Linked DNA regions of Homo sapiens: regions 1, 2, 3, 4, 5 and 7 are each reported to be linked to region 6. The links are microRNA targets in miRTarBase. Many come from high-throughput screens and were not tested one by one. Region 6 holds a microRNA gene; each other region holds the end of a gene's coding sequence.
What was found. The annotated mature microRNA hsa-miR-130a-5p reads GCUCUUUUCACAUUGUGCUACU and lies in region 6 at 1,865-1,886, opposite strand. An mRNA with a match to its seed (bases 2 to 7 or 8) in the 3' UTR can be bound and repressed. Matches are read on the target gene's strand: a 7mer-m8 pairs with bases 2 to 8, a 7mer-A1 pairs with bases 2 to 7 and ends in A, and an 8mer does both.

Region 1: miRTarBase lists PALS2 as a target of hsa-miR-130a-5p. The part of its 3' UTR that is shown has no 7-base or 8-base seed match.
Region 2: miRTarBase lists HS2ST1 as a target of hsa-miR-130a-5p. Seed matches in the 3' UTR shown: 7mer-m8 at 2,883-2,889.
Region 3: miRTarBase lists TSNAX as a target of hsa-miR-130a-5p. The part of its 3' UTR that is shown has no 7-base or 8-base seed match.
Region 4: the mRNA of RPP14 is a reported target of hsa-miR-130a-5p. The part of its 3' UTR that is shown has no 7-base or 8-base seed match.
Region 5: miRTarBase lists CRLS1 as a target of hsa-miR-130a-5p. Seed matches in the 3' UTR shown: 8mer at 1,096-1,103, 7mer-m8 at 1,434-1,440 and 8mer at 2,131-2,138.
Region 7: miRTarBase lists CEP57L1 as a target of hsa-miR-130a-5p. The part of its 3' UTR that is shown has no 7-base or 8-base seed match.

What each region holds. Positions count from the first base shown.
Region 1 is chr7:24,687,052-24,691,051 of GRCh38, forward strand. PALS2 (protein associated with LIN7 2, MAGUK p55 family member) reads left to right here. Exons shown (of 12, transcript NM_001303037.2): 12 at 387-4,000. The coding sequence ends at 563. Among named protein-coding and RNA genes, the nearest start is that of GSDME, 68 kb to the right of the region's middle.
Region 2 is chr1:87,104,303-87,108,398 of GRCh38, forward strand. It overlaps HS2ST1 (heparan sulfate 2-O-sulfotransferase 1), which reads left to right. Exons shown (of 7, transcript NM_012262.4): 7 at 168-4,096. The coding sequence ends at 394. Among named protein-coding and RNA genes, the nearest start is that of LINC01140, 23 kb to the right of the region's middle.
Region 3 is chr1:231,564,689-231,568,688 of GRCh38, forward strand. TSNAX (translin associated factor X) reads left to right here. Exons shown (of 6, transcript NM_005999.3): 6 at 1-1,836. The coding sequence ends at 217. The region is part of intron 4 of TSNAX-DISC1 (TSNAX-DISC1 readthrough (NMD candidate)); the gene reads left to right. Among named protein-coding and RNA genes, the nearest start is that of TSNAX, 38 kb to the left of the region's middle.
Region 4 is chr3:58,316,989-58,321,082 of GRCh38, forward strand. It overlaps RPP14 (ribonuclease P/MRP subunit p14), which reads left to right. Exons shown (of 6, transcript NM_007042.6): 5 at 1-5; 6 at 452-3,205. The coding sequence ends at 508. It overlaps HTD2 (hydroxyacyl-thioester dehydratase type 2), which reads left to right. Exons shown (of 5, transcript NM_001348712.2): 4 at 1-5; 5 at 452-3,205. The coding sequence starts at 626. The coding sequence ends at 1,132. Among named protein-coding and RNA genes, the nearest start is that of HTD2, 13 kb to the left of the region's middle.
Region 5 is chr20:6,036,593-6,040,688 of GRCh38, forward strand. CRLS1 (cardiolipin synthase 1) reads left to right here. Exons shown (of 7, transcript NM_019095.6): 7 at 482-3,461. The coding sequence ends at 566. LRRN4 (leucine rich repeat neuronal 4) reads right to left here. Exons shown (of 5, transcript NM_152611.5): 5 at 3,954-4,096. Among named protein-coding and RNA genes, the nearest start is that of LRRN4, 15 kb to the right of the region's middle.
Region 6 is chr11:57,639,002-57,643,097 of GRCh38, reverse strand. It overlaps MIR130A (microRNA 130a), which reads right to left and starts at 1,900; the gene lies at 1,812-1,900. The region is part of intron 1 of MIR130AHG (MIR130A host gene); the gene reads right to left. RefSeq lists an enhancer at 3,103-3,682.
Region 7 is chr6:109,162,398-109,166,474 of GRCh38, reverse strand. It overlaps CEP57L1 (centrosomal protein 57 like 1), which reads right to left. Exons shown (of 11, transcript NM_001271852.3): 11 at 1-3,726. The coding sequence ends at 3,505. It also overlaps the pseudogene CCDC162P. Among named protein-coding and RNA genes, the nearest start is that of CEP57L1, 69 kb to the right of the region's middle.

The DNA of each region.
Region 1 (4,000 bases), not on the chromosome of region 6:
TGTTGTACATGGGCCATGAGATAAAAATCTTTCGAAAAGGATGATATAGTGGAGCTGGAAACCAGTCACCTGCAGTAATTGTTTTGTTACTGTAGATTCATTCCAAGATTATTTTCAGCAGTCTTTTAATTAGGAATTTTATCCTAATATAAGTGAGGCAAAAGATGCAGAATACTCATAAATGTAAACATGAGTGTTGTTGGAAAGAATAAGACATGAACAGATGGCAGTGTTGTCTTTAACACTATATGGATTAGATTTTGAAGATTAATACCAGAATTACCAGAAATATATCTAACCTATTTATTATATTCACTTCTAGTTGGAGTTTGAGCAAGTAAATATGCATTGTAATACAAACATTTCCTTTTAAAACTCTTCAACAGGACTCTGACTTGAAGAAAACAGTGGATGAAAGTGCACGGATTCAGAGAGCATACAACCACTATTTTGATTTGATCATCATAAATGATAATCTAGACAAAGCCTTTGAAAAACTGCAAACTGCCATAGAGAAACTGAGAATGGAACCACAGTGGGTCCCAATCAGCTGGGTTTACTGATGATTCAGTAAGGTTAACAATGAAAATTAAACTCTTAAAAAGTGACTGCAACAAATAAACCTTCTACTGAGAAAATACATCACAGATAGAAGATTATCTGCTAAGTCCAGGCATTTTTATGGTGTAGATTGAAATAATAGTACACTTCTGAATTTTTATATAAAATGTGGTTGGAAGGTGTACTAATATATAATTTATCTTAATTTTTCTAACTTTGTATGGATAATCTTTCTATTCATATCACATAAAGAAATGCGTTGAAGCATTTTGTATATGTTTTGATTTAGTACCCTTGCCTTTTTCATCAAAGGAATTTTCAAATCATTCACTCTAACATTGGTCTCATATTTTCACTGTGATAATGAATATTACTTGAAATAGTTTTGTAAAGCTGTCATTTAGTTCAGTATTCAAATAGTGAAGGGTTAGTCTTAATAGAAGAAAATATAGTTATTGACCTTCCTTCTTATAAATTTCTTACAAAAGCAGAATTTTAAGTCAGTGTTATAGCTAGTCTACTACCATCTAAATCTGACATCAAAAGTCTGATCAGTTTACGTATTTTCATTATTTCGGAGATGTATGGCTATCCATTCTAATTTATACAGCTATATTAGTTTTGTCTCTTCATTTCTATCTTTACTGAAAAATTGAAGAGCAATACCTTGCACTCTCTTTTGAGGTTATTCTTTTTATTTGTTGCAGTGATATGATGCTAACTAATTTAACATGTACACAGTAAGCTCTGGGGCTGGAAGCAAGGTCATGCAGACTGAGAGAGTGCCTTATCCTGTAAAACCTTACAGCAAAATGACACTTGAAGAAAGTTTATTTTCACATGTAAAATTTTGACTGACAAAAGGAACCTACTACTTTAAACAATGGTTTTATTAGAACATGGTCAGCAAATGTATCATGCCTCTGCAAATTTTAGTGATGTTTAGAGATGCCTCTAAGTTTGCAGTTGGAGGTTTTTGTGCTTTTAGAAATGTGATGTGATCCTTAGGGTACCTGTTTTGTCTGTTGTGTTGAGAACCAAACCCATTGAACAACTTAAAAAATTGGGAAATAATTGTCAGCTATTTTGTATACATACACACAAAATATATACATTATATAATATGTATATTATGTATTATATAATATATATAAAATGTTTTGTATATTTTTTACATATCTGTTAAAAAATGTACTTTGTTTTTTTGTTTGTTTGTTTTGAGATGGAGTCTCTCTCTGTCACCCATGCTGGAGTACAGTGGCGCGATCTCAGCCCGCTGCAACCTCTGCCTCCTGGGTTCATGCGACTCTCGTGCCTCAGCCTCCCAAGTAATTGAGATTACAGTTGGGTGCCACCATGTCCGGCTAATTTTTGTATTTTTAGTACAGATGGGGTTTCACCATGTTGGCCAGGGTGGTCTCGAGCTCCTGACCTCAAGTGATCCACCCACCTTGGCCTCCCAAAGTGCTGAGATTACAAGCATGAGCCACTGCACCTAGCCAAGAAGTGTACTTTTTGTTTAATGATTACCGAAAGAAGTTCTCCTTTAGAAGCATTGACTTATACAAATTCCCACATTCACCTCAGTTAATATCTTCCTTTAGGATTCTTGGATAATAGAAATTCTTCCTAAAACATACTCAGAGATGCAGCTCATTATTAAATTAAGGTAACCACATTCTGTATTGTTGCTAGCTTTTCATGTAAACATTATTCACACTTTAAAGGATTAGGTGTTTAAATATTGATGGTCATCTTTGTCTGGTGTTAGGTGCCAGACACCTGGCTGCTGAATTTGTTTTTTCCCTCACCAAAGTTGTCATTTGGAACGCCAGCTGGGAGGACTTTGAAGGAAAAGAAAATATATGACAATAGGCAGTATTGACACATTGTTTAAAATCTTTTTCACAATAAAACAAAACACCCAAGTTGTCATATTGTTAAAGTTGGAAATCTATAGGTTTTTCTTTTTTTTTTTTTTTTTCTTTTTTTGATTCTAGATTTCATGGCCAGAACACAAATTCACGTTTCTTGTCCTAGGACAGGGAATTGGTGACAAAATGGATTATACTATTTTAATAACAGTGGAAACTTTCAAACTACATGTGTTTACACCAAATTCTTGGCTTCTCAAAGCAACATGAATTAAAGCACAGTATCAAGGTGATGCCCTATGACAATGTTTCAACACACACTTGAAATTTTAAGAGAAATTTCAGTTCTTCACTCAGGAAATGTGCTGTATTCTCTAATGTACTTTCATGCTGCAGCATGGAGCCTCTTTAAACAGCTTTGGGATAATTATAGCAGCACAAGAAGTTTATCTGCAAAATATTTCAATCATCTTGGTACAATAGATGACTTTTACATCATGTATATTAGCCTTATGTGATATAAAATGTATTACTTAGAAAATATACTTAAAGGAATTATTTCTATTATAAATGGTATTCATGATTGACTACTTAATTAATGCACATTAGATTTCTCCTAATATAAAATGAAATGATGCAGTTTAGTTCATTTCAGTCTAGATGCCCGTACTAACAAGAATACAGTTAGATAAGTTCATTGTATCTCAATGAAGAATCATTGAACTTGAAACCCAAGTCCCAAATGAATCTGCAGGAATGAGCAGTGCTCTGCGGGGGCAAACAGCCCCAGAGGTCCCAGGGTTCTTCCTAGGTAATGAGAGTATAGCTGTGATCAAGGAAATGTGAACTTCTCTTTTGGGAAGATCTGCGATAATTAGCTTTATGGAAGCGAAAATGGTTTAGAGTGGTGTTGAGCAATTGTTAAGAGTTGAAATAGACACACACATGCATGTGCTTTTGGGAAACATGATGTGCCAACGTATTAATGTGCCTGAGGGCTCCTTGTGGATAGGTCAGTGTCCACATTTCAGCACTCAGGGCATGACTGTACACAACCTAAGACTATATATATATTTTTTCATTTTCAAATGTACAAATACCCATAGAGGTGATGTGCCTGGATAAGTCATTTAACCATAGCTTAGTGAAATAAATGTGATGGCCCTAAAAAGTAGAATTTTCACTTTCATTACAGCCATGCCTTTATTATGCAGTCTCCATTTCTGTGTGATATTTGGTAATATCACATGTCAAATACATCAGGACTTTGTTTATTTTGGCTAACTCTAACTATACAATTGCTGAACATAGCTTTCTGAAATAGAAATTATAAGAGAAACCCAGTATGCCTACAGCATTAGTAGCCTAAATCCTAGATTCTAGAATCCAATAAATTTATAGTAGTTCTTAAGAAGTTTCCTTTAAAGCAACAAATAGATTATTAAGGCAAATTTAGATAATAACCCAAGTTAGCAATAAAACCATGTGACATTATAGATTATGTCCAGATACTAACTGCTTTGACCATAATATCCCAATGACAATAAAAAATGATCCTTGGTTTA
Region 2 (4,096 bases), not on the chromosome of region 6:
GGCTCTAGTTTGATCAAGGCTCCGTTTTTACCTGAATTATATAAGACAATTATGTTACCTGTTCTTAATGTGTCATATTAACCACCTCTTCAAATAAAGAGGCATTGATCTTTTGTGTGTTCTCCAAGAATTATTTACCTTTCCTTTTTTTCCCCCTTTGTAAGTAGGAAAGAAATCTCATCTTAGGAAAACCACAGAGAAGAAACTCCCCACTAAACAAACCATTGCAAAACTACAGCAATCTGATATTTGGAAAATGGAGAATGAGTTCTATGAATTTGCACTAGAGCAGTTCCAATTCATCAGAGCCCATGCCGTTCGAGAAAAAGATGGAGACCTCTACATCCTCGCACAAAACTTTTTCTATGAAAAGATTTACCCTAAGTCGAACTGAGTATAAGGTGTGACTATTGGATTCTTGAACTAAAATTTGACCCTGTCTTCACCTTTGTTCTCAGCTCCACAGTCTGGATTGCTGACAGTAGGTGTATATGACAATTTGTATTGAGCCAAATTAGGAAACAGACAGTAACGTCAAGGAAGTAGATACTGGCTGGCATTGTCAGTGTTCTAAGTTTCAGGCATTTTTATTTTTCCTGGCTAAACGTTGGTGAAAGTTATAACCTCCTGCCTGGGAGAAAATATACATCACCTAAAATGAACTTATGGCAGGTCTAATCAAAAGGCTAAATACAATTTCAGAAAAGGTTCTGATACTCTTGTTTTTGATAAAGCATTTTTTCAACTAACCATGAATTAAGATGAGTCCATTTGCCTCTTCTGCCTTCACTGAGGGTTTGGGTTATACACCTCTACTGAATTGTGTTAATAACTGTTTGGCAGTGTGTACTTTGTTTTTGTGAGTCATGTCTCATGAAATTTATTGGAATGTTTAATCATATTTGCTAAGAAATGTTTCTGCTGTAGTTGGATTTGCCCATATTTATGTAGGTGGTTTTAATTTTTTAAATGGTGATTAGTGTTAAAAATCAATTTAAATCATGACTAATATGGTAAAAAGATAAAGCATCAAAGCAGTATTTCTCATTCCTGCCTCCTCAATATCTAATACTGGGAAGATACTTCAAAGAATATTGAGATTGTCTGAAGTTTTAGTTAAGATTTTCACACATTAATATCAAAAAAGTAAGTTTAGTATTTGTTTCTCCATGGGTTATTTGTAAAGCTGTAAACTGAGATATCGGTGACTCCGTATTATGACTCCATTAGTGAGCTGTGGTATGGGTAGGATTTTCCTACTTCTTCTGTACTTTTACCTGTAGACTATTTTTACTAAGGTGCTTTATAATGTGTTTTAAAGCATTGCATTTACAAAACAAGGAAAATGCTGTAAATATTGCATATTTTATGTATTTGGACCAAAAGGTTACAAGTAATTAGACAAAAGTGGTTTTGCACCAATTTTATGTCAAGTAAAACCATCAGACCTACTGTTCTTGTATTTCTCATTTAACTTTACTGTTAAGACATCACTGAAATGAACTTCAGTAAGCTTTCAATTTTGATACACAGTTCATTATTCATAACTTGAGGCAGTAATTACAGTGGAATGAGTACTGGACAAGGAGTCAAAAAACTTGATTTCAGGTCCTAGCTCTAGCACTTACAGCTGTGTGATCTTGGGCAAGTCACTTAACCTCTCTTTGCCTCAATTTCCTCATCTTGAAATGAGGATAATAATACCTGCTGTACCTACCTCACAGGGCTGTTGTGAGGATTAAATGAGATGGCATGTGAAAGCACTTTGAAAATTGTAAAGCGCTATGTAAATGTAAGGTATTATAGAAACATCTTTAACATATAGTTTCATACCATTCATTTTTTAACAAAGAAAGGGAAAAGTCTGCTTGTAAGCTGGTTGAAAAAGTTAATCTTGATATAAATTTGTGTTTGATAAATATCCTCTCAGTGTTTTATCTTCCATGTTTCAACAACTATTGAAATATGAAATGCCTGTGAACTCTTAAAGCTTCATGAGCAGCTGCTTGAGTTCAGGAAGTTCACTGTTAGAAATAGGCTTTGTTAGCTGACTAGGGTCAGGGAAACTTTTCTCTTCAAATTTGAAAGCTGTTTCTGTTTTCATTTTACATTATTATTCAGAAATGGTAGCTATTCTATACCTATGGTTTAAGTAAATATTTCTGAATAAGGCTTCACCATACTGTAAGCATTTTAGGTAGATTGCCTTAAAGGTTATGGGAGGGCATGAGGGAACACTTCTTATGAGAAAACATTTATAAACAAAAGAAACATTTATAAACTAAAGAAAAACTAAAAGAATGACAGAACAATCATCTTAGCACCCTTTCCTCACAATAATATAAAAATATTAAAAGAACATAGGCAGGCTTTTTTTAAATTTGGCTTTTTTCTTTCCTTTTTTCAAATTGACTTTTATAGGTATTTCCTGAAAGTGTATACAAATTATTTCCTCGCCCAAAATAAAGCACCACTTCAAGGTGTGGTTTGACATTACATGCTAATGAACAAACCCAGTATGCAAGTTATTCTTGCACCACATGCTCAAATCTTCTTGAGGTGCATTAACTCTTTTAGGTAACTAGAGCAGTACTTGGTGAACTAGATCAGGAGGTCAGTAAACTTTCTGTGGAAGGGCCAGAGAGTAAATATTTTAGGCTTTGCAGCCCATACGGTCTCTGTCACAGCTAGTCAACCCTGCCATTTTACCACAAAAGCAGCAATAGACATTATGTAAACAAATGAGCACAGTTATGTTCCAATAAAACTTTATTTACAAAAACAGATGACATCCCAGATGCAGACCATGGGCAACCAACCATTGCACTGGCCAAATCATTATTTATGGAGAAATCCTCTTTGTGTCTCTACTCTAGATGCCTAAAAGAGTTTATATACTTCTAAAAGCTCCTAACTTATATCCAAAGAATTGCTTTCTGATTCGTGTAGTCTCTCCCACAGATTCATAAACTTTTATGACTTATATTGTTTCCAGGTGGGCATGGTTTATTTCCCAGTTTAACAGTTCAGAATAGGGGCATTTATTTTATCATATTTTAGGGTGGGTTAGGAGTATCCTTTCTGGAGACTGAGAAAGGGGTGTATTTAATTCCATCAGGTCCAGTACAGTACTAGGAGTCATAATACTTTATAATCAATTAAATAAATAGAACCACTGAGACAATAATGTATTTTTTTAAAGTGGCAAATGTGGTTTTCTTTTTTCAGCCTTTGCGCTTTTTCAGTATTTTGACCATAGGGAGATAATTTTTTTATAATACAAAAGTAACCACTTGGAATTTTAAAGATAATGTTATGTGTGTATGTGAAATATATATACATATATATATATATGTTTATTTCCTAAAAGAAGAAAAGATACCTTTCTGTTCAACTTGTATCAACTCCTCTTTTCTAATTGCTGTGAAATGGCAACTGTTGATAAATTATTGTGATTGTTTTAAAATCTAATGGGAAGTAAAATATATTTTGATTTTACCCAGCTTAATCTGTAAAGTAGCACTTAAATATATCTGATAGCAACACTTAAGATATTGCATGGGGATTACTTTCCTATCATCCATATGCATTTGTGCAACTTCAAACATATTGGGTGCTTCTGAATTCCTGATGATTGGATTTAAGCTATTGAAAATTGGATAATTTAAACTTAATGATTTTTATAATTTTCTGATCTTAAAATTTGGTTAATGCCTATAATCTGTTGCTTTTTCTCAATATGTGTCCTATTGGAAATTCCTCAAATCGTTGGTGCCATCAGTGATTTACAAACAATATTTTGATATTGCAGATGACTTGCTTACTGTATTTGCATTGTTAGAAAACAGTTTGTAGACAATGATTCTTTTTTAATAAAATCAAATAATTCTAAAAGTGCTAGAGAATTTAACTAAAAGCTGGTTCCCAAATGCATAGCTGGCATTTTAATTTAAATTCAAATCTACATAGAGAACATCTGTGTAAATCATCTAACTGGATTTTTCCATTGGTCATTCCCAAACACACCTATGGTCCTAGAATCCTTAAGAGAAGCACCCTGTAACCTTTTATGTGGTTTGCCTTTAAGAGGCCCAGG
Region 3 (4,000 bases), not on the chromosome of region 6:
GTTTTTACGTCAGGTTTATGATGGGTTTTCATTCATTGGCAACACTGGACCTTACGAGGTTTCTAAGAAGCTGTATACCTTGAAACAAAGTTTGGCCAAAGTGGAGAATGCTTGTTATGCCTTGAAAGTCAGAGGGTCAGAAATTCCAAAACATATGTTGGCAGATGTGTTTTCAGTTAAAACAGAAATGATAGATCAAGAAGAGGGCATTTCTTAGAATCTAACGTTACTCAGTTACTAATTCTTTTGAGAACTCCTAAGAGACCAATTTGTAAGACTTATTTAGTATTTCATTTAACTTTATTGTGGCTTTTACATAGAAACATATTCAGTTGTACTTGTTTTAAATTGTATACAAGCTGTACATAAAATTAGCCAAATGAATCATTTCTTATATCTTATTCATGAAAGTTTGCATACAGATGTTTGCATATATGCCTTTTTGAATTTTTGCTGGTTAACCTTTATCATTTATCTTTGTAATGTGAACATGCTTCAGAGTGTACCTTTTGCCATAACCTATTTTAATTTACTTTTTCTGAAGTTTGGAGTGATAATTTTTAGTGGAAGCAATTTGTAATTTAAGTTGGTAGTTATATTATATATAGAAAAGATTTTTTAGTTAAACTTCTGGACATGAGCGTCCTGTTTAAATTTCTTGTTAATATCGTGCCAAGCCTCAAAAATAGGCTTATTCCATGGAACAAGAATTAAAAATGAATAAGCTATCAATATATAATTTAAGTACAAGTTTAGGCTGGGCGTGGTGGCTCACGCCTGTAATCCCAGCACTTTGGGAGGCCGAGGTAGGCAGATCACGAGGTCAAGAGATCAAGACCAGCCTGACCAACGTGGCGAAACCTCGTCTCTACTAGAAATACAAAAATTAGCTGGATATGGTGGTATGTGCCTGTAATCCCAGCTACTTGGGAGGCTGAGGCAGGAGACTCGCTTGAACCTGGGAGGCAGAGGTTGCAGTGAGCCGAGATTGCGCCACTGCACTCCAGCCTGGGTAACAGAGCAAGACTCCATCTCAAAAAAAGAAAGAAAGAAAAAAGAAAGTACAAGTTTATAAAGTATTATAGTGAAAAATTCGCATTCTGGCTGATTTTAAGCCATTTAAAATTTATATAAAACAACCTTCCATAAAAATTTGACAGGTGCCCAGATGTTGCTTTCTCCATTTATTTTTTGTTTTTTTTTAATCACAGTAGGTCTGATAGAGAATTGGAGCTAAATTATAATATTTTTGTTGGTAAAGTTGAGTTATATACTTGTACATACAATGGAAATGCTTTTAGTAGTGATTATTTAGCAATTTTTGTTTTTGTTATATTAGGCATGTTTGGAGGCTTTCCTATTCTAGCATTTAAATTTAAATTTTATTAAAATTAAATAATTTAAATCTAGCATTTAAATTTAAATAATTTAAGTCTAGCATTTACTTTTAAATAATTATAATGAAGTTTTGAAATACTAAGTTAATCCAGACCTTTAGTTGTCCCATGGTGTTAATAAAGTTGCCAAAGAAGATGTATTATGAACAATTCAGCAATAAGACAATTGTCAACACAGTTGAGAATAACAATGGTAATCGTTAGTAATATTTAGAATTGGAATTTGCCTACTGAAATAGTTATAGATGATTACTTGTGATGTGAAACTGAATTGAGCATGACAACCAGACATTTCCAGTTGGTTTTGTAAGTTTTGAGAATCTAGATACTGGGTTTTATTTTTTGAAAGATTAGCTCTGTTTGTAAGGGCTGATTCCTTGAAAATGTAATTTTCCAGAAAAACACCTAAAGAAAATAAAACATGGACATGCCTAGTAAATTCTGTTTTTTTGTTTGTTCGTGTTAGTGATGGTGGGTTTTTTGGTTTTGCAACTCACCTGTAGTCAACTCACTACAGGTGAGTTGGTGCCATTGCTACTGATATATCTCCACAGTTCATGTCATACTAATACTGTGGGTGTTACGCCAACTCTGAGTCTCACTTTTAAAAATACTTACTATGATGGCATCATGTGTGGTAACAGTTTTCATCTTTAATAGAAAAAGAAACTGGTTCTAGGTCACATGGTAAGTTACTGACAAAATTCTGAAAGAATATTGGGTTCTTTCATAAATAATTTCCAGCATGTATTACATCAGTGAATTTTTTTATTTTTTTAGACTTAGTCTCTCTCTATTGCCCAGACTGGAGTGCAGTGGCATGATCTTGGCTCACTTCAGCCTCCACTTCCTGGGTTCAAGCGATTTTCCTTCCTCAGCCTCCCGAGTAGCTGGGATTACAAGCACATGCCACCATGCCTGGCTAATTTTCTATTTTTAGTAGAGATGGCATTTTCATCATGTTGGCCAGGTTGGTCTCAAACACCTGACCTCAAGTGATCCTCTCACTTCAGCCTCCCAAAGTGCTGGGATTACAGGCGTGAGCCACTGCGCGCAGCCTACATCAGTGATTTTTAAAGTACACATTGAGTGCGCTGGGGCTTTTTGAAGGTGTCTCAAAGAAAGATGATATTTAAATTAGATTGGCAGAACAGATTTGAAAATTCAGTCCCTTTATGTCTACATAAGAGTTACTTTAGATTCAGACACACAAGTAGATTGAAAGTAAAAGGATGGAAAAAGATACTCCATGCAAACAATAACCGAAAGAGAGCTAGAGTGGTTATATGAATAATATCCAACAAAATAGACTTCAAGAAAATTATTTTTTGCCAGAAACAACATACAATAAAACACTCAACCCATCAAGAATACGTACCAATTATATACGTGTGTATATACGTGTACACACATATTTCTAACAGAGCCCCAAAATACATAAAGCAAAATTTAAGTGGAGAGAAATAGACAATTCAACAGTAATCATTGTAGATTTCAGTACCCCACTTCCAATGGCTAGGACACCATGACAGAAGATCAGTAAGGAACTTGAACCACTCTGTAGACCAATTGGATTTAACAGACATATATACAGAACACTCCACTGAACAGCAGAATGCATATTTTTCTCAAGTGCACATGAAACATTCTTTGCAAAATTTCAGACCACAAAACATCTCAATAAACTTAAAAATACTGAAATCATACAAAATGTGTTCTCTTACCACAATGGAATGAAACTATAAATCAATAGAAGGAAAGTGGTATAATTTACTAATAGGTGGAAGTTAAACAATGTACTCCTAAGTAACCAGTGGATCAAAGATGAAATCACAGGGAAATTAGAAAATACTTGGGGGTGAATGGAAAGAAAAAGTTGATATACAATAGCATATGGGATGCAGTGGAGCTGTGTTGAGATAGAACTTTATAGCTTTAAATGCCTGCATTTAAAGAAGGTTTCAAATTAATAAGCTAAACTTCAGCCTTAAGAAATTAGAAAAAGAAGGGCAAAGTAAACCACAAAAGAAGCAGAAGAAAGGTAATAAAGATTTTAGCAGAAATACGAAATACAGAAGAGAAAAACAATTGAGGGCTGGGTGTGGCAGCTCACACCTGTAATCCCAGCACTTGGGAGGCCGAGGCCGGTGGATCACCTGAGGTCAGGAGCTCGAGACCAGTCTGGCCAACATGGCGACACCTTGTCTCTACTAAAAAATACAAAAGTTAGTTGGGTGTGGTGGCATGTGCCTGTATTCCTAGCTACTTGGGAGGCTGAGGCAGGAGAATCTCTTGAACCCAGGAGGCGGAGGTTGCAGTGAGCCACTGCACTCCAGCCTGGGTGACAGAGCGAGACTCCATCCAAAAATAATAATAATAAATAATTGAGAATAGCAACAAAACCAAAAGTTGACTCTTCGTGAAGATCAACAAAATTAACCTTTGGCTAAACTGATGAAGAGAAAAAGACTCAAATTACTAAGATCAGGAATGAACGAGGGAACGTTACTACCAACCATACAGAAGTAAAAATGGGCAGTGGTGCGATCTCGGCTCACTGCAACCTCCGCCTTCTGGGTTCAAGCAATCCTCCTGTCTCAGCC
Region 4 (4,094 bases), not on the chromosome of region 6:
TTCAGGTAAAGACTATTCCCTCACATATTCCAAACAAGACTGAGTGATGGGTCAACTGCTTCTTAATATACACAACTCATTTTTGTGCTTGCATAAATGTAATATGGTTAAAATGATCTAAGTAGGGGAAAATAAAGGACTTGATTGTTTCCAAAAATGTGAGACAGAGCACTTAGATTTTAAAATCTATGGGAGATGTTTTGGGATAAAACTTGCAACCCTGTGGTTAAGGCTTACTTTTTTTATTTAACACTTAATGCCTTGTGTGTTATATATTGGTACGCTCTTTTTGAGATGTGACCACTTGTTATCGAAGGCTTCCTCTCAGGATGCTCTGTAAAATGCTCCTGCATCAGCTTTGTTTATCCTGTAAAACTGGGCATGTTTCCCCATTGCCCTGTGCTTCAGTGTGGTTTCTCCCAATGCCTTAACCTTTTTCTTTCTCTTCTAGGTTTCTCCATTTCTTCTTGCATTATCTGGTAATAGTAGGGAACTAGTATTGGATTGAATGAATAGTCTTCCATTTTGGAAACGTTCATCCACTCTCATATTTATTTTTTGGTGCCTGCATGTTTGAAGACTGAAGCAGGCTAAAAGCTCTTGATGAAATTTGAGGGTGCTGAAGATGTTCCCACTAATTTCCAGCCATCACCTTTGGTGGGGTGGGCTTCGGAGGACAGTCTGTCTGAACCTGCCAGTGCTGACCCTGCAGCACTTTCAGCATATGCACATCAAAGTTGGAGACCGCGCTGAACTTAGGAGGGCCTTCACACAGACTGATGTGGCTACCTTCTCAGAATTAACAGGGGATGTCAATCCTTTGCATTTGAATGAAGACTTTGCAAAACACACCAAGTTTGGAAATACAATTGTACATGGAGTTTTGATCAACGGACTTATCTCAGCTCTCCTAGGAACTAAAATGCCAGGGCCAGGCTGTGTATTTCTTTCCCAGGAAATTAGCTTTCCAGCCCCTTTATATATTGGAGAAGTTGTTTTAGCTTCTGCAGAAGTGAAAAAGCTGAAGCGGTTCATTGCTATTATTGCAGTGTCATGTTCTGTAATAGAAAGTAAAAAGACTGTTATGGAAGGCTGGGTTAAAGTTATGGTTCCAGAAGCTTCCAAATCCTGAAATAGATGTTTTAAAGATGCAACCTCAAACACCAATGCTGTTGTTAAAGAGCCTATGGGGAATTGCTGCTCTTTACCAAAGAATGGTTGATAGGCCCAGAAGCCCATCTTAGTTAGGGGAAGGGAGCAGGAAGAGGGTTGTTCAAATGCCCACTTTCCAGTTTGGCCTTATGCTTCATGCAGACTTGAGTGTATGCAGGATTTCATTATCTGCCTGGGTTTTTTGTTTGTTTTTTGTTTTTTAATTCAAGAAGTAGGCTGGGCCCGGTGGCTCATGCCTGTAATCCTGGCACTTTGGGAGGCTGCGGCAGGCGGATCACTTGAGGTCAGGAGTCCAAGACCAGCCTGGCCAACATGGTGAAACCCCATCTCTACCAAAAAAAAAAAAAAAAAAAAAGTGCAACTAGCTGTGCTTGGTGACTTGGCCCTGTAGTCCCAGTTGCTTGGGAGGCTGAGGTGGGAGAATTGCTTGGGCCTGAGAGCTGGAGGTTATGGTGAGAAACTGAGATTGCACCACTGCACTGTAGCCTGAGTGACAGAGCGAGACCCTGTCTCAAGAAAGAAGTATTGGGAAGGTTATTTAAAGACTCTACTTTTAAATCAGGCGTGGCAGCTCACGCCTGTAATCCCAGCATTTTGGGAGGCTGAGGCAGGCGAATCACTTGAGGTCAGGAGTTCAAGACCAGCCTGGCCAACATGTGAAACCCCATCTCTACTAAAAATACAAAAACTAACCGGGCATGGTGGCGGGCACCTGTAATCCCAGCTACTTGGGAGGCTGAGGCAGGAGAATCTCTTGAACCTGGGAGGTTGCAGTGAGCTGAAATCACACCACTGCACTTCAGCCTGGGTGACAGAGCAAAACTCCACCTCAAAAAAAAAAAAAAGATTCTACTTTTAGAAATTCAGACCTAGATAGATTTGCATTTGGATAACAAATCCCTACCTATAGCCATGTGGAAGCAGCTTGTCACTGTATTTTAACTGTGTAACAATTATTGAAGGCGAAAATAGAAGTTGGGTCATCTTTGAACACCTACCTTTTATCAATGAATATTTTTAGACTGTTCTTCAGTATCTGAGTCAGAGTTTATTGTAATTTGTTATTTACACCAAGGTGGCATCTTAGTCTACCTTCAGTGAGACTTGCGTTTCAGGGGAGGGGCGTATGTGCATCCTCGGTCTCAGTTATGTAAACGGTCTGATCTGTAAAATAGTGGTAGCACATGCCATGTGGGATAGTTGGTGGAGATGATAGATGGAGTTAAGCACAGGGCCCAGCCTGTCAGCAGTAGCTACTATTATTGTTGCCCATTTCCCCTGCAACTGAGGTGAGAGGTTTTCCTGAGTTTGAAGCTGACTGGCCCACAGTTAAACGTAACAGACCAGTTTTTCAGGGTGTCAGCCAACCTCTATTAGTGTTCTTAAGTACAGTTTCTGTTATAAAAGTTCAGATTATTCCTTGAAAATTTGGATCTACCTCCCATTATTATGAGTAATACATGCTTATAGTAAAAAAAAAAAAATTGTAAGAAATAAATATTAAGAAGATTATGGAGGCCAAATTCTTAAGACTTTGGGGGCTGGGGTCAGGGAGGTTATATTGAAGGGGAGATGTGCCTAACATGTTACTACTAAATGGCCATCCCAACACAGCCAACACTTTTGTTTCCCATTTTTTTTTGTTTCCCGTTTTTTAATAAAATTGAGATATAATTCACATACCATAAAATTCACCTTTTAAAAGTGTACAGTTTAGTGGTTTTCAGAATATCCACAAAGTTGTACAACCATCACCAAATCAATTTTTTATAGCATTTTTCATCACCCCCAAAAGAACCTCCCATTAGCAGTCAATCCATTTCTCTCCTCCAGTCTTTGGGAATCACCAGTCTACTTTCTGTCTCTATGGGTTTCCCTGTTCTGGACATTTCATAAAAGTTCATACAATGTATGATCCTTTGGAACTGGCTTCTTTGATATAGCATGTTTTCAGGGTTCATCCATGTTACAGCATGTATCAGTACATCATTTTATTTTATGGCTGAATAATATTCCATTGTATTTACCCATACATCAGTTGATATTTGGATTATTTTCGCTTTTGGGCTGTTAAAAATAATGTTATGAACATTATAGAAGAGGTTTTTATGTGCACAGGTTTTAAATATATATATATATATATATTTTCTTTTTTTCTTTTTTGAGATGGAGTCTTGCTCTGTCGCCCAGGCTGGAGTGCAGTGGTGCGATCCCAGCTCACTGCAAGCTCCTCCTCCTGGGTTCAGGCCATTCTCCTGCCTCAGCCTCCCAAGTAGCTGGGACTACAGGCGCCTGCAACCACGCCCGGCTAATTTTTTGTATTTTTAATAGAGACGGGGTTTCACCGTGTTAACCGGGATGGTCTCGATCTCCTGACCTCGTGATCTGCCTGCCTCGGCCTCCCAAAGTGCTGGGATTACAGGCGTTAGCCATTGCGCCTGGCCGACAGGTTTTAAATTCTAGGAGTGGAATTGCTGGATCATGTAACTTTAATATTATAAAGAATTGTCAAATTGTTGTTCAAATTACTATTGGGCATGAGGTGGTATCTCATTGTAGTTATGATTTCCATTTCTCTAATGTCAGCCAACACATTCAAGACAATCTATGACAGAATTTTTAATTTTTACCCAGAGAGCAGCTGAACAGACAACTAGAAAGAATTATTCTAGGCCAGGCGTGGTGGCTCATGCCTGTAATTCTCAGCACTTTGGGAGGCCAAGGCAGGCGGATCACGAGGTCGAGGTCAAGAGATTGAGACCATCCTGGCCATCATGATGAAACCCCATCTCTACTAAGAATACAAAAAAATTAACTGGGTGTGGTGGTGCGTGCCTGTAATCCCAGCTACTCGGAGGCTGAGGCAGGAAGATTGCTTGAACTGGGAGGTGGAGGTTGCATTGAGCTGAGATCGTGCCCCT
Region 5 (4,096 bases), not on the chromosome of region 6:
GTGGGCTTTAGAGTTCAAACGAAGTCAGGCTCAAACATAGTTCTGTGATAAGCCCTGAGCAAGTTACCCGGGTCTTCCATTTCCCCCTTCTGGAGAAGTCCTTTGGAGGATGAGTCCTTCTGGAGGATGAGTCCTTCTGGAGGATGAAGTCCTTCTGGAGGATGAGTTCGTTGTAAGAATAAAATGAGAATGTAAGACACCTAGAGGATGCCCGAGTAAAAAATGACAGTTGCTAGTAGTAGTAATTTGTAGGGCTCATTATCTAGAATAATTTTGTTTGACGTTACTAATTAAAATGAACTCTTAAAGAAAAGCAGTGTATTTAGACTCTTGTAGTTAAGAAAAATTACACCACAGAGCCCTTTTTACTTTTTAAATTCATTTTTACATTTTAAATTCATTGCATGTATTCATTATGATTCCCGTTGCTACTATTTTTTAGACTTGACAACTACATTTTATTTCTTTTCTTCCATAAAAGGTGTTTTACAGCTTTCACCACAGCTGCATCAGCTTATAGTTACTATCATTATGGCCGGAAGACTGTTCAGGTGATAAAAGACTGATGAAAGTCATCCCTCACTGTTAGTAAGGAAGCAGTATACATCAATGGGAACAGGGCCCATGGAAATGTACAGGAGTTTCCCTATTTTGGTGTTCAGCTTGAAAAAGGACTTGTCAGAATCAACTGTGTCATCAAAATTTAAGTAATGTGCATTGAAAATAAGGTTGATCATGGGAATATGCAGAATTTCCAATGTATTTTTAAATACAAATAAAATTGTAATTTAGAATTTTTAATCTTAGGTTTCTTGATTAATTTATAAGAGATCAATTATTGTCAGTCTTTTTTGTATGTTTTTTAAAAACATAGTCCAGAGCATGGGCAGAATTGACACCTCTCTTTTAAGTGAAATTTGGATTGCTCACAAAGCACTAGGAAATGTCATGGGGTTCAAATATATATCCTACACAACTGGGCAATACATTTTTGTTTGATTTTTAGGTCTGTGTATACATTAACAGTTCATGTAATTAATACCTGATCATTTGGGATAATGAAAGTGAAGTTAGTTGTAGATGAAGTAAAGTTATAAAAGAGATTAAAAATGCGGTAACTTTTTAAGATAATAATCATACAGAAGGTATGAAGTTCATTTTCGGTAGTCTTCCAACCTCTCAGGTGCCTAATAATTTATGTTTGAGGATAACAGGTAACAAAGATAGTCGAGATAGGAGAACGTGTCTATTAGTCTTTGCATCTAAAAGGCAGTGAGTTACGTTCCTGCCTTCCACTGTGTTTCTGACATAGCAATGTTTGTTTGATATTGGAACCTGGATTCATATTTTATGTAAATAATATCAAGCTGTATATTTTTCAAAGGTTTTTTAAACTTTGGAGACTCTTTCTTTTGTTAAGCAGTTAAAGGAATAAAAGAGCTGGAAAAAAAATTGTACCTTCAACTCAGGTTGTTCCATATAACATACGTATTCTCTGCTGTTACGTAAGTTTTCCGATTCACAGAGTCCATTCATGTACATCACTTACACTTAAATTGTAAAAATAATTAGTCTGACCATCTGACTTTAAAAGACTGTTGCTACACGTACATCATGTTTAGGAGAATGTGGGATATGGGGAAGGGGAGAAGAAGACAGTCCAGTGGTGACTAGTTGCTGCTGCTTAACCTATGGCCTATTGCTGCCCATTGTCCCTGGTTTTAATCCAAGCCTATTATGGAATACTGCAGTGAGATTATCCATTCTCAGCCTGTTGAGCTGCATTAAATTAGAATGGGAGGCTGTAAGTAAAACTCATGCCTCTTGGCCAGGCATTCTGCACCAGCGTGTCCCTCTGTGGCTTGCTGGTCCTGGTTGTTCTCAGACTGGCAGCTGAGCTGCGCTTGGCTTGAAGCATACTGAAGCCTGCAGCCAGGGACACCGCCATTGAATCAGATGGAGGGGGATGAAAAAGCAGAGAAGGGGGCATGTGGCTGGCTATTCTTGCTCTCTGGAGAACAGCTTCATTGTTAGGAGTAGTTAGGCTGAAAGTGGACTTCCCACTGCTGAGCCACCCAAGAGGCACACTGAGCATTAGTGACGGGTGAGCCACATAAGAATAATGTTTAAAAAAGAGAGGACTTGAAGTAGCTATGCGAAAATTTAGAACTTTGCACTTTGTTAACGCTTATTTATGGTTTAGTGTTGATGCCATTTGGAGTGACCTATGGGTTGGACCCATATCTTTTTATTATTAAGGTCTCAATCTGGCTCTGGTTAATAAACGTTTCCCGCTTCATCCCTTAGGAAAATGGTCCAAGTCTCCTCAGGCTTTTGGATACTGAATTGTTATAAAACACATCAATTCTGCCAGTTTATAAAACACTGGAATTGTATTAGACATGTCTGAGTATGTACTTGTTTATAGACTCAAAACATGATGAAAATTCATTTCATTGTCTTCACTGAATAGACTTAACCTTGACAGTAAGCTTAAAGCATTAGTGTCATTTAATTACATGTCTGAGGAATTTATGCTAACTAGATTTTGGGCTTTTGCAGCGAATTTTAGTCGGGGCCTCATTCCTGAGCCCAAGTGACCCTTTCACCTCAGCTTCCCAAGTAGCTGGGATTACAGGTGCACACCAACTGTGCTTTGCAGTTTTGTTTGTGTGTGTGTGTGTGTGTGTGTGTGTGTGTGTGTGTGTGTGTATTTTGTTTTTTTTACAAGCCCACAACATCATAGCTTTGCAGTTTTTAACCAGGAGCTGGTGGAGATCTTTGAAATCATTTAGGCCAATTCTTTTAGTTACATTTATGATGAAACTAGGGATCTACCTTAAAGTTTTGGGAAGCTCTTTCAAAACTTCAGACACCTAGAAATATATATAGTGCAGTTCAGTTTTAGTTTCTGCAGCATGGTTTGGAAACAAAAGATACATAGGATTTAAACTCGATTTGTTTTCTTCTTACAGTAGAAGTAAATGCTCTTGTGGCTTGAATCGCATCTCCCAAGAAAGATACGTTCACGTTCAAACCCCCAGTACTGTACATGTGACCTTATTTGGAAATAGGGTCTTTTTAGATGCAGTCAAGATAGAATTAGATCATACTGGATTACAGTGGGCCCCAATAACTAGGTTTTTTTGTTAAAAAAAAAAAAAAAGGAAATGTGAACAGAGAGAGAATGCCGTGAGATGATGGAGGGATAGATTGGAATGATGTCTGCGAGCTAAGGAATACTGAGGATTGCTGCCAACCATCCGAAGCTGGGAGAGGAGATGGAACAACTCCCTCGGAGCCTCCAAGAGGAACCAACCCCACTGATGCTTTGATTTGGGATTTCCGGCCTGAACTGTAGGAAAATAAATTTCTGTTCTTTTAAGCCATTTTTACCAGTTTGTGGTAACTTGTTACAGCAGCTGCAGGAAATTAATAAATGCCAATGTTGAAAATTAAAATCTAGAAATATGGCTCTAATTATAATTTCATAGAATCATTTTTTCCCCTGAGTTTCCCCTGAGTTTGCATAAAAGTGAAAAAGTAGAGGACAGAGTAGATGCCTCCCACATGAAGACACAGATTATTAAGGCATTGTTTGATGCAATTAGGGCAGAGAAACACGGGCTTCTAGCTAGAGCCTCGGGTTCTCTTTTGCTCATTTCTTCCCTCTAATTAAGAAAAAATATTTCCAAAGTTTATTATGCCTCCTAAAAAATGAATTTATAATTCATTTGTCCATTTAGTCTTAGGTGAAATGCAGTAAACACTAACTTAAAAGGACAGCCTTTCCCTGTGTTTGACAAATGTTCCCAGAAAACTGGTTTTAACTGTAAAGCCGGGAGTACATTTTCTTGTCATGTCCTGAAATGGAACTAATAAACCCAGAAGGCCTTAGGAAGCAACCATTAGCTCTCCCCCTTACCCTAGTTCTCAGGAATTGGAACTGGAAATCCACTGGAATTGATTTCTTGAATAACAGAGCTCGTTGTGTCTTAGAGCTTGACCATGAAGGAGCTTCCGCTGGAAAGACCTGAGGATGTGATTTCTAACATGATCAAAGAGGCTGGGTTATGCAACTTCTCTGTTTCATCCC
Region 6 (4,096 bases):
GTTGCAGTGGGCCGAGATCGCGCCACTGCACTCCAGCCTGGGCGACAGTGAGATTCTGTCTTAAAAAAAAAAAAAAAAGGGAAATAAAGCTAACTGTACTATCTCAAATACTGTTGTTGTGATCAGAATGGAGAGGCTGTCTGGGCAGGAGAAAGGAGGACTAGAACTGGAAGGCACAGAAGTAAAAGGGCAAGGGAAAAAGGCAAGCCATGGAGAGATGTCCAACATCCCTCAACTAAGGCCTCAGGGGAGTCTGACCCATCTTTCAGTTTCTACATGCCTCATGATGCCAAGATCCCTCTCAGGGTCCAGCAGAGGACCTCAAAACCCTATTCCTCTTGGACCCATTTCTTGCACCAAAGTTTAGGGAAGATTTCTCAAGTCCCAAACTCTGCTGTTGAAAACCAGGCACAAACTAGCTGCCTTCTTCACTTGATCTTAGCCAAAAGACCAGGAATACTAGCTGCCTTCTTAAAGAAGCTCCCCAAATATTCCTCTCATTCAATTTATTTTAACAAGTTTTAATTAAGCCTACTAGGCACTGTGGGAGACAGAGAAGTAAATGGCTGAGTCATTGCTCTCAAATTTTTCTTTCTTTTTTTTTTTTTTTGAGATGGAGTCTCGCTCTGTTGCCCAGGCTGGAGTGCAGTGGCGCAATCTCGGCTCACTTCAACTTCTGCCTCCAAGATTCATTCAAGAGTCTCCTGCCTCAGCCACCCAAGTAGCTGAGACTACAGGCGTGCATTACCACGCCTGGCTAATTTTTGTATTTTTAGTAGAGACGAGGTTTCACCATGTTGGCCAGGCTGGTCTTGAACCCCTGACCTCAGGTGATCCGCCCGCCTCGGCCTCCCAAAGTGTTGGGATTACAGGCGTGAGCCACCGCACCCGGCCTCAATTTCCTTGTAATTGGTCCTGGGAGAATCATTCTGTGGGTTGATTCAAGGGATCCTATTAATCTTTAAGATTAAGTCATGGGCAACGCTGTCCAAATCTTGGATGCCCAGACAGGTGTGCCCTCAAGCAGCATTACCATCAAACACCCCGTGACCAAGAGGGAGTGGTGCTGAGAAAGGTAAGTGGATTCAGGGAAGGAGTGAGGTCTTTCCATGCCTCATGAGCCAGGGAAGGAGCTGTAGGTATGGGATGCCAGCAGCACACAGGTCCTTTTCTTTGGGGAGCAATCCTCTCGAGTTAACCCCCTTTCCTTTCTGGTGCATTCCTTTTTTTCTCAAGGAGGCCTACTCTGTACCTAATAGTGATTCTCCTAATCTTTTTCCACTCACTCTCCATTCCGGGCTGAGTCTGGGAATGCTTATCCTTCTTAGCCTAAGGAGTTGCCACCACTTCTGGTCCTTAAAGGTTTGAGGCTTTGGAAGATATCCTCATACAACCAGCAGATGGCATCAAAACCTTCCACCCCTCAGCTCAGGAAATCTCCCAGTTTGAAGAACCTATTCAGATCTCTCCAGATGGGTCTACAAAAAGATGAGTGAGCTGTCAAGACTTAACACAGGGTTGTATCTAGGCTTTGCAACCTAAGAGCTACACAATCTTAGCCAAACTGTTTAAACCTTTCTGACCCTCAGTTTTTCATCCATAAAATGGGGCTGTTACCTCCCAGAAGTTATTAGGTTTCACAGTAACGGAGGCAGTGTCTATCACAAGCACTGCATACAGAAGTAGTTCCATAAATGAGAGCTATTAGTATAACTAACAAGTGAGGCTACCCAGATTCCCACCAGGGTAGCTGACTGGTGCCCAGATGGGAGAGGAATTGCAATGCTGAGGAGGCAGCCAGCGCTGGGTAGCACTACACGGCCAATGCCCTTTTAACATTGCACTGCTAGTGACAGGTGCAGACAGTAGCACAATGTGAAAAGAGCTCTGGCCAGCAGCAGAGGCATGCCGGCCCTGCCTCCTCACTCCTTCTCCCAGTCCCTGGCCCACTCAGCTCACGGGCTCCCTCTGCCCCTTCTTTGCTTCAATACAGCTTTTTTCCCTTTTATTCCATTCTTAGTGTTCATTCTATTTTTTCACCACTCTTCCTTTTGCCGCCTTCTTCACCAACCCCCTGACCCCCAGCACAGAGACCACCTTTTTCTTGGAGGTTTTGGCATGGGAGGACAGGACCCACTAAAGCAGCTGCAGGGATACTTCGGGCTTGATGCTCAGTCCTCAAAGAAAACGGCTATTAGCAATCCCCAAAGTCTGGAGGTCACTCGTATGAGGCTGTGTTCATCTGGATTTGCATTTCCGCTAGCTTACCTTCTAGAGAGGAGCTTGCTGCCCAAGACTACAGAACCCTCTACTCTTCTCTAAGTTTCCATCTCCTTTTAAATTTAGATAAAGCAGAGCTCTAGGCCTCAAGGCAACACTCTCAGATGACCTTCCAGGACCAGAGAGGTGGGAGCCTGTAGTCACAGCTCCCCACGCAGTAGAGAGAAGCTTCCAGGCGGGGAGGTGAAAGCTGCTGGTGAAGCCCCACCCCTGCATCTCCTTTTGGAGGTCCTGAAAGCACTTTGCAGATTCAGCATTAAAATGGTGAGGGTGATTCGCTCACAGTTACTGAGAGTTAGGGATAGGCTTTCACTGGCAGTGGGATTCACATCTGAGTTATTTCCTGTCTTATCCAGGGACCCTTGGTTGGGGAGTCTTCAAGCTCATCCTAGCACTTCCCCATCCTATCCAACCCTAAGGGGGCTTAAATACAGGACAAACAGTCCCCGGAAGATTAACACCCAAAGCCAGAAAGCTGCCCTGGAAGGACACCTGGATATCTGGAGGCTCAGACCCAGGCAGGCTCTATTGTGGCACATTCCAGCTAGGGCCACAGCCCCGGAGCCCAGCTCCAGTTCTGACCCAGTGAACTTTGGGCAGCCCAGAGAAACAGAGGCTGGAGGGTGATTCCTCCAGTGCCCCGATCAACGAAGGGGAGATGCCTTCTTCCCTAATCCACAGCCACCGTAAGGAATAGAGGACAGAATTCCAGTTGGGAGCTCTTCCTCTGGGCTTCCCTCTAGCCTCGTCCCACCCCCTCAGGAAGCAGGAGACGTTCCCTCCCGCTCTCCCCGGCAGAGTTTGTTCCCGTAATCTGCAAACATGGGGCCCTGCCCTACAGTTTTAATGGGCGGAAACCAAGACCCCTCGAGGGTCAGTGACCTCTCTGCTCTGGGGTTGGGCAAACCAGGCCCAGCTGGGAACTGGATCACACCAACAGGGGGCAGAGGGGCAAAGATAAGGCTGCACAGCAAGCTTCAGGGAGGCCAGGGGAAGATTCTTCCCCAAGAAGTTTCCAGGTCTCTCCTTAGGGAGTGCAGGGAGAAAGGGCCAAGAGCCCCTCAGCTCTCACACACCCAACTCATTCCTGAGGAGCAGGCCCAGCGACTCACCAGCCAGCAGGACCCCTCCCCCACCTTGGGCCCAGGAGCCAGCCCCCAGCTCCTTCCAGAAGCGAGTGTAGAGACCGAGGAGGAAATGGGGGAGGGGAGGCCCCGGCTCAAGTTCTCTCCTCTCCCCCTCCTCATTGGCCACCATCTTCCGGCCCCTGCCCCCAGAGCAGCAGGGGATGGGGCCCAGCCTGTGAAAGGGAGAGAAAGGGCAGGTGGGGGGTTAGCTGGAGCAGCAGGGGCAGGGGGCTGGCCCCAACTGTCTCCTCCCACCCCCTCCTCGCAGCCATGGCGACGGGAGGAGGAGACCAGGAGGGTCCTGAAAGCCATGTTCTGTGAATGGGATGAGAGAGGCAGCTGGGAAGTGGGGGGTGAGGGGCGCTCTCCTTCAACACCCAACTGTGCTCCCCCCGAACACACACACCTCGAGGCTGGACCACACAGGCGCACGTACACACCACACACACACACACACACACACACAAACTCTCAGCCATACTTGCTGCACAACTCAGCCCTCATTACACACCCAAACAACAAGAACTGGAGTGTGAGCGCACGCCCCCCACACACACACATCCCCGCACCCCTCAACACCCCACAACTATCAGCTCGAAAACCAGCCTCACACCCCCACACCGCCCCTGGCTCACCCTACAACTTCTGGAGGTGCAGAACTCCCTGCCCTGCTCCAGCCCTTCGGCCCC
Region 7 (4,077 bases), not on the chromosome of region 6:
GAGGTGGAGGTTGCAGTGAGCTGAGATCGTGCCACTGCACTCTAGCCTGGGTGACACAGCGAGACTCCATGCCCACCAAAAAAAAAAAAAAAAGAATATACATTTATAGTTAAAATTACACTTTTAAAGTAAGAAAAGCTCTCACATCTACTGGCAGGTATAGAAAAAAAGGAATAAAGTAAGAAAGCTACCAAAAAAGCTCAAAAATAATTTTCAAGTACATTATCTACATTATCCCAGCCAGTTAACTTACTATGTACTAAGTATCTCCCACTTTAATCTTACATTGTTGAAAACTGAACATTTCCCTCTGACCCTCCTGTCTTTATCTACAACCTAATAAAAATGGCTGGGTTGCCAATGATCCACCCAAGTACAGTTAATTCAGGATTCCAACTCCCATTTCCAGTATCAGAATATAGTCACAATACCTGCTGCTTCAAACACTGGAACTTTCTGGCTTCAGTTTCATCAAAATTGAGACCTGCCTTGGCTAGAAAATTCCAATTCCATTATTTCAATTTCTAATTACATAAAAACCAAACAAATCTGTTTTTTACTTAAGTGAACAAAATCCGTGAAATCATACCAAGTTTCTGCTAGACAGAGCACAGCTGTGAGGTTGCTACAGCAACTCTTACACTGACCATAGACTGACTGCTCCATCCAGGAAAGAAATCTTTTGCTCCACCCCCTGAGGAGTCAAAGGCTCTGGCAAGCAGGCAGTCTGTGAGTTCAGTAGCTGTGATGAAGCAACAAGACACCATTCTTCATTGTCTCTCAATAATAAATGTCACCTCAACAACCACACCATACTCCAAACCTATTTGCTGTGTGTGGTTACATGTTTCAGCACAATGACAGGACTGTGTTCTTTACCCCCTCCCATTAGAAACCTGGGCTAGGAAAGATGACAAAGCCATTTCCCTTCAGGCACACAGAAAGAGATAAAAACCAAAATAAGTGAGAATATTCCCACTTTTACCAATAATATATTTAGGTGTTTGCTTTTAGGCTTCAACCCATGCAAACATGTGTTCTACATTTTTTTTTTTTTTTTGCCACTCAGATTCAAAAAATATTTATTGAGTGTTTAATAAGTGTCAACTCTTCTGCTGGGTGCTTTCCCATGTTATTTCATTAACTCCTCACAACAAATTAGTATAGTCCTGTGAGGGAGATATTAGTATAATCCTCACTTTACAGATGAGAAACTGAGGCTCCAGAAAGTTATCTGACTTGTCCAAGCTATTAAATGGTAGAGTCCCAGAATTTGAAACCAAGTTTCCTAGCTCTGAAGTTGTGGTTTTTTCTACTACACTGGACTAATTTTTAAGAAAATTCTCAGTTGAAATATTCCATGTTCCTAAAATGGTTTTAATTTTTTTTTTTTTTTTTGAGACAGAGTCTTGCTGTGTCACCAGGCTGGAGTACAGTGGTGAGATCTCAGCTCACTGCAACCTCCATCTCCCAGGTTCAAGCGATTCCCCTGCCTCAGTCTCCCAAGTAGCTGGGATTACAGGCATGCGCCACCACACCCGGCTAATTTTTGTAATTTAGTAGAGACAGGGTTTCACATGTTGGCCAGGATGGTCTCAATCTCCTGACCTCGTGATCTGCCTGCCTCGGCCTCCCAAAGTGCTGGGATTATAGGTGTGAGCCACCGCGCCTGGACGGTTTTTAAATTTTTAATGATAATTTTTAAAGCAATACCTTTTCACAAGTAATGAATTATTAATAACTAAATATATTCAGCCACCTTCCTAAATGTATAGAAAACAAAGGCACAGAACTATAGGTCTGCATTATGGTCCTGGTGGATAGCAGAAAGCTAAAAAGTTTAGCAAAAAGCTAAGCTTAAGCTATAAAACTCATATCCTCAAGGAGGAAAGGCAAAGTAGAAAAACAGGTAAGGTGATGCAACTGAGTTTAGATCAAACACCCTATGGAACATCTCCAGGGCTGAGGAGCTAAGGGTGTGAATGAGTGGGAGTGAAAGCTGGCAAAGGGCACATGCACTATTTACAACAGGAGGAAATTTTGATCTCTGCCATTAACTACTTTCAAGGACAATTTCAAGCATCAATGTGCCCATCTTCAGTCACTTCCCCACTTCCAGGTATGGAAGGTATTCTAACATGGTATCTCTCCTCACCATTAGAATGAATTATAGTTCTCTTCCTCCCCAAAAGATCCATAATTACCAACTTTTTCCTACACAAGCTTCTTGGGAATTTCCTAGGAAAACAGAAAAACTGTCTTTTAAAAATTGCTCTCCTTAGCTTCCCAAGATCCTGACCTAAAAATTCTTTCACATCTATAGCTTGAACATTCCATCAGCTGTGGGTTCAAAGAATTCAGTAAATATGTACTTCCAACTCTGTCCCTTAGGAATCACCATCTCTTAAACTGCTACCCTATATTTGAGCTCCTCCATTCTATTATATCTTTTCTCTCTGTCCTCTATTTCTAATTCAGTTCATGACTCTAGTTCCCCAGTTGCCTCAGAGGATTTGAGTGAGAAACCAAGAGTTCAGAAGAGTTGTACTAGTTCCCATAGGCTTCCAGAAAAATGATCAAGTGTAAATTTATTATAAAGCATGCATACACAATGACATTTGACATTATTGATTTTAAAATATAAAAAATAAAAATATACCATACTACCGTGAATTTCTGCTGGATGAGGTAATTTAATGCCCAGCTTCCTCTTCCTCTATACTTTCTTGTACAAAAAAAAAATACCACTTTTGTGGGTCCTAGAAATTCACAGTCTCAATTTATACTGATGGACATTACATACAATGCAAAGAATAAAAGTCAGCAAAAGTTATAAAGTAGTAAGATAAAATTGATCATTGATTTTTTAAAAAAAACTAGTTTTGTAAAAGAGAATGGGAATAGCAGAGGAAAGCTTCTGCAACTGAATTACTGTCTCCTAAAAATTAAGTAGCTATAGGTTCCTACTGTCTCATAAAACTTGGATTAAAGGCTTCTTCACAAAACTGTGTAACTATTAAGTTTTTCCTTTTCCAAAAGAGAAAAACATTTCACAGCTCTAAAACAAAATAGAAAGAAGGCACCAGGAAAGCTAAATGATCTTTCTGAACTCTGTTCATTGAACATTGGTTTTTAAGGTTCCAAACCTACTAAATGAAAAGTGGAATGAATGGTACTTGTAGCTTGGATTTAACTCAATTTTGAATATTGTCAATCTAGTACAATTTCTTAAATTTAGCTTAAGATATCTGCAAAGCCAACAATGTTTCTAAGACAAGATGAGGTTACGGGCTTCAATCAATAAGAAAAATAAAAAAGCAATTAATTTATTATTTGGAACCCACCAGGTCATTAGGCATTAATTTTTAAATACTGCAACTTCATGTTTTATAGAAACTAGAAACATGATTCAAAATGTCACAAAGTTATATTAAATTAAAACCACTTTAGACAATTCAAGGTCTCACTGACAAAGTTCATTAAGGTGACAGTTTTGCTGTTTTGTTACTGTTCCCACATGATATCATCTCTTCTCAATTTCATTTGAAGATTATGAACTCGTATTGGATGAAAGCTGCTGTTTTTCTGAAAAAGGTTAGTGTCAGTCAAACATTTTCTGGGGCTATTTTTTATGTTCTTTGATCCTTTAGGGTAGCTGTCTTCTTGCTGAATACCTGAAGCTTCACTCATCTTTGAGTTTTGAACTTTTTGCTGCAGTTTACAGACCTGGAGAGAAAAAAAAATCTAACATTTTAGTCAAAAATATACTAAAAATATATTCCAAAATAGATAGGTTGAATTGATGGTTTAACGTTAAAAAGTTAAAATTGAACATTAAAAAATTCAATTCATTAAGTTTTTAATTTATTGAACATCTATTACATGCCTAACACTGTGCTTGTCAGGTAGAAATATAATGAGAAAAAAGCTCTTACTTTCAAGGAGCTTACTGCTCCTATTAGTGAAAAAAAGCACATATGTGACAACTAGAGAATACTCTGAGCCAGGATAACTTTGAATAAGACAAAAAGTGTATATGTAAGAAGGCCAAAGTCGGATAAGGTCAACATGGGCTGC